Linked DNA regions of Homo sapiens: region 2 is linked to region 1. Evidence: fine-mapped expression QTL. Tissue or cell type: transverse colon. Region 1 holds a variant in brackets; the other region holds the start of a gene. All regions are shown on one strand. Distances are from middle to middle.

Evidence for each region. PIP is the estimated chance that this variant, and not a neighbour inherited with it, causes the effect.
Region 2: NIPAL2 starts here. The variant in region 1 is fine-mapped to the expression of NIPAL2 in transverse colon (GTEx, PIP 0.96).

What each region holds. Positions count from the first base shown.
Region 1 is chr8:98,183,662-98,186,418 of GRCh38, reverse strand. All of the region lies in intron 2 of NIPAL2-AS1 (NIPAL2 antisense RNA 1), which reads right to left. Among named protein-coding and RNA genes, the nearest start is that of NIPAL2-AS1, 8.6 kb to the right of the region's middle. The variant T/C (reference allele first, on the strand shown) is at 1,384.
Region 2 is chr8:98,292,889-98,295,502 of GRCh38, reverse strand. NIPAL2 (NIPA like domain containing 2) reads left to right here and starts at 1,268. Exons shown (of 11, transcript NM_001321635.2): 1 at 1,268-1,500. The coding sequence starts at 1,366. The region is part of intron 5 of LOC105375659 (a long non-coding RNA gene); the gene reads right to left. RefSeq lists a silencer at 1,029-1,748.

The DNA of each region.
Region 1 (2,757 bases):
AATCAGTATCTTTCCAAAAACTCACCTATCCATGCACACTGGCAAATAACACTCAAAAACAACAACAATAAAACTCACCTATCAGAATTTAAGGGCTGGGCGCGGTGGCTCACGCCTGTAATCCCAGCATTTTGGGAGGCCGAGGCGTGTGCATCACGAGGTCAGGAGATCGAGACCATCCTGGCTAACACAGTGAAACCCCGTCTCTACTAAAAATACAAGACATAAGCCGGGCGTGGTGGTGGGCGCCTGTAGTTCCAGCTACTCGGGAGGCTGAGGCAGGAGAGTGGCGTGAACTTGGGAAGCAGAGCTTGCAGTGAGCTGAGCTGGTACCACTGCACTCCAGCCTGGGTGACAGAGTGAGACTCCGTCTGAAAAAAAAAATTTAAGGACGTTACTCCACATCTTCCTTAGGCAGTCACTCTCAGTATAAGATGGCATAAAAGATATTCAGGAAATAATGACTGAACTCTACTTTTGCATTTGTGGCTCATCACATCCTACCAGAAATGATCAAGCATAACGAGGCTATGAGCTGAACAGTGACCTCTGAGATGGCCTCGAGCAAAACAGCTGTCTCCAGAGAAGAATGGGCTGGGCCATCCAAAATCTCACTCTCCAGAACTTGGGGTGAGAGGCATGGAGACAGTCAAGGAGGTAGGAGTGGGAGCCGATACTGGAAGGCTTCCCAGAGAGATATAAAGGTACAAGGGGACCACAGAGGGCCTTGGCAAGCCAAGGTTAATAGTATACAAGGAAGAGTGAATCATGAGAGTAAATGAGCTAAGAGCCAAATCTGTTGGCAGAGACAGGGGAAGTAAGAAAATACTGCAAGGAAAACAAAGACTCTGAGAGAGGTGACCAGGAGAGCAAAGCCCAGGACCTGTTGCAGGTGTATAAAGTTCATGGCACACTTACAGTAACAGCCAACTCCCTCCAGCTGGCTGGAGAGACTCTTCCGAGCCACCAAAGGGCCTGAGTTCCATGGGAGTCACTGGGTTTCCAGAAGACAATAGATAGATCAGGCTGTTGGCACCAGACAGGGAAGGGATGAGTTCATTTGAGAAATACTTCATGAAAACCATCATTTCCAGTATTCACACTATGGTGCAGGACTGTTCAGTGAGAGTCCATAGTGGCAGGGGACAACCTTCAGATAGAAGATGGAAGAAAGTGGGCCCAAGAAAATGATCAGGAGTCCCTGGTGGATCCCAGGCCTAATCTTAATGAGCGGTATACCCTTATTTTTTAAAGGTATGTAGAGTACTCTCAATGCATGGTCACTGGATGACGGCTGAGGCATCTGCTGAGTGAGTATTTGTGTGTGTGTGTGTGTGTGTGTGTGTGTGTGTGTGTGTGTGTGTGTGTGTGTTGGGAGTGGGG[T/C]GCGATGATGCATAAAAAGACATTGAGGGAGCAGGGGACATACTGGGAACCCTTTTCAGTGTGGAGAGAAAGGTCAACTCCCTCAGCCACAGACAGGATAAAAATGGGGAGCACAACAGCAAAAGAGCCCTTTAAACACCTCCTTCCTTGACTCTCTGTCCACCTAGGAATGCAAATCTGAGCAGGTGGCTCTTAGGGCAAAACCAGAGAAATGAACCGGGTCGCGGGAGAAGAGGCGCCTCCAAGTAGCGCAGCCCCATCCCCTGGGCTCTCACCACCCCCAAGCTAGGAACTCCTGCACCAGGTTGTGGCTCCGCTGCTGTGCCTTGGAACAGGGTGGGCACCCCCACGGAACCTGGTACGCAATGGCCACCTTTCTCCTTTGGCTTGGGGGTCTCGGGGTGGCAACCTGGGACACTGCTGTCCGGAACATGACAGGGCCCACCCTGCTTCTCAGTCGCTAACAGGAAAACAGGATTCTGCAGGGGAGGACAGAAATCTGTCACCCGGGGCACAGGGCTTGCCTTGCTGGCCTTTCCACGGGCCTTCTCTAAAGCAAACCACCTGTTTCCTGCCCAGCATGGGCCTGAGCCTTCCAAGATGTCCGCAGAAAAGAAACGTGTCCAAACCACTGCTGAGGAATGACAGTCTTGGCACTGCCTCCAGTTATATTTGTTGTTCACTAAGGAGTTTTGTGGAATTCAGACTCATTTTCCACTGAAACAGGGGAAAGTAAAGACGGCACCAAATAAAAATAGCTTCCCGGCGTTTCCTGTTTACTCTGCTCTGCGGGCTTCCCACGGCCTGGGGGCTTCACTGGACGTCTGCACAGAAAGCCCCTCTCCAAAGAACACCGCAAGTGACGATTTGCTTTCTTCTTCTGTGTTTCTAACTCTCTTCCTTGTGTTCCACAGAAGTTTAGTTTGGGGGTCTGTTGGGTTAACTCCCAAGTCTCCTTTTTCTAGCCCTTTTTAGAGGGAGACAAGGTTGCAGGGTGTTTCTCTGCTTTCCACGGCCCTGTTCTCTCACAAAGTAGAGCCAATCATGTCCGGCCTGCTGGGCCTCAGAAGGAAGATGTAGGAGAAAGAGTAGGTGACACAAATATAAAAGGACTGTGGAGAGAGGGGCCCTGGCCAGGCACAGTGGCTCATGCCTGTAATCCCAGCACTTTGGGAGGCCAAGGTAGGAGGATCACTTGAGCCAAGGAGTTCCAGACCAGCCTGGGCAACACGGGGAGACCCCGTTTGTGCAAAAAAAAAAAAAAAAAAAATTAATTAGCCAGGTATGGTGGCACATGTGTGCCTGTGGTCCCAGCTGCTTAGGAGGCTGAGGTGGGAGGATCCCTTAAGCCTGGGAGGTCGAGGCTGCAGAGAG
Region 2 (2,614 bases), 110 kb before region 1:
TTGGGCCCAGGAATATGAGGCTAAAGTGAGTCAAGATCACACCACTGCACTCCAGCCTGGGCAACAGAGCAAGACCCTGTCTCAAAAAATAAAATAAAATGTAATATAACAAATAGAGACCTTTTTCCTTCAGATATTTATTTGAAGTAAATCAGCCTCTTAAAATTGGGAATAGTTACCTACAATTGTTAGCTGTTCACTGAACATCTCGAGTGCTTAAGCAAGAAACTACACAATTTCTGAGACGACATGTCTTGTTTTTTCTGTATGTGAAATGACTTTTTCTCACTCTTTTCTCTCATTTGCACATTTCCCCTAAGAAACACTGAAAACTGTCCCTGCTCCCTTCTAGGCAGCAATTCTCTTTTCTTGAAGGTCTCTCTTTCATGAACTCATGGAAGTCAAAGCACATTATCTAAGAAAAACCTCAGCATTGTGTAAACAAAAGAAGGCAACTATCAGCCTTCAGGCAACAGTATAGAATCATGGTTTTTTTAAAGTGAGAAATACCCTACAGATCATTTGTGGTCACACATTAGAATTTGAATACAGGTAAAACCAGAACATCTCGTTAGAGTTCTTAAGATTAATAACAACATTTATCTTTCATCCTAAATTCATATATACAGTAGCTGGCAACTTTTCAGCAACTCCACCTGATCCCATCTGAAGCAAACCCAATCCAGTCATCGCACACTGGGGTCCTATGGCTACCACATTCCTCATTCAAGGAATATTTACTAAGGATCTATCAAGCACTGGCACTGAGATTCAATCGCTCGGATCTTTTTTTCTCATATTGCTTACAATATTTCTGGGAACTCATGACTTTTTCATATGCAATCAATTTTTAAAATATCGGTGAGAAACACTACATATGTGATAGAGGACTGGAATTGCCAGGTAGAGATGGGAGATGATAGCTGCTTTGGGTTAGTCAGTGTCTCCTCCTCTTCCATTGACTTGGACAAATGTTTACAACGGAGATGATCTGATTCTGGCCCCGACAGGCGCGGGGACCCGTTGCGGACGGCCGCGGGGATTGCCCCCTTGGGCAGTGCGGCCCCGAGGATGCAGACACTGGCCCAGCGGAAGGAGGGCGCGGTGCGAGCTGGACGGCCCCGGGAGGCCGCAGACCGCCGGGCTCCCCGAGGACACCTCGCACCGGAGGAGGAGAGGAGGCAGCGCCCGGCCAGGCTGGGAGCACCTACGGCCGCGCGGGGGCGGGAGCCAGGTGGCCTCGGCGCGCCCGCCTCGCCCGGGCACCGAGCAGGAAGTGGCTGCGGCGCGGCCTCCTCGCGGTGCAACAGGGCGGGGAGGCGGCCGCAGCCCGAGCCGGAGCCCGAGCGCCGGGAGCGAGACCTCATGGCAGCGGTGGCGCCCGCGGGCCCCGGGGACTCCGCCTCGGCCGCCCTGGACGAGCTGTCACTGAATTTCACGTACGGGGCACCAGGCGCCGGCAACGGCTCCCTCTCGGGCGACTGGTACCGCAGGAACCAGGTAAGGGCCGCCCCGCAGCCACCGCAGCCCGGTGGGGACGCGGCCAGGGCGGCTGGCTCCGGGCGCCTCTGCGCCTCGGCCGCTTTCCTGCCAGCTCTCAGGAAGACACCCGGCCTCTCCGAGTGGGAAGAGGTGACATGCAATGTTTCCCGCATTGACCTAAGTCCGCCTCATCCGGAAGCGCGGGGGTCCGCCCAGTCTTCCTCTCCCGGGCACCCGGCACTGGGAGTGGGCGCCCAGGTCTTCGGCCTTGACCTCAGCCACCCGTTCCTGGGACCTCCGGGTCCCGATCCCGCCTCCCCAGCCTGCGTCCGCCCTCTTCTCCCGGAAGGAATCTAGGAGTGTGGGGGCAATTCACTCATTTTCACCCCAGGATCCTTTTACAGTTAAAAGAAAAGAAAAAAGTGACACCCTGTTATCAGAAGCAGAAAACTCATTAAGGGCAGCCTAATGTCACCTCGCGCAGATGCCCTGCGTGTGTCCCTGGTATCTCAACACAGCTCTTCCATTTCCGTGCGAGGAACACATTTTCTCAGGTTGCATTTGCAGGACTCTCATTCTTTCCCACCGGCCCTTTGGGAAAACTTTGTTAACTTAAACAACGCCAGTTTACACTGGAAATATACATTTAACAAAATCAAAGGGACTTGGAGCCGCCCATTTATTTTTGGCTTGGTTTAAGATGAGGAAGTGTTCTGGCCAGCCCTTCCTCTAGCAGCGTTCATATTGCAACTAAGTTTTATCACGGTGGATTCCAGGCTTCCTCCTGTTTTCATTAAATGTGTTACTTTGTTCTTGTTCTTTAACAAAACCATGGATACTTTTATTTTTGCAACAATATAATCAGAAAATATTTGTTGCTGTTGTCCTAAATCGGAGAGTTTAACCAATTATCAAAGATCTGGATTCCTTTTATGCCTGAAGTGTTCTAAATATTAATTTCTGAATGCAGAAGAGAATATATTTGTATAAAGAATAAGTAAGATAAATAAGCATGTTCACTTTATTAGTTTTCAAGAGGGGAGAGTATTGCTTTAAGTCATTTCATCATAAAAGATATAAAAATAGGAAAAATGAGGGTACTCAGAGCCTCTTGATCAATGTTTGTAATCCA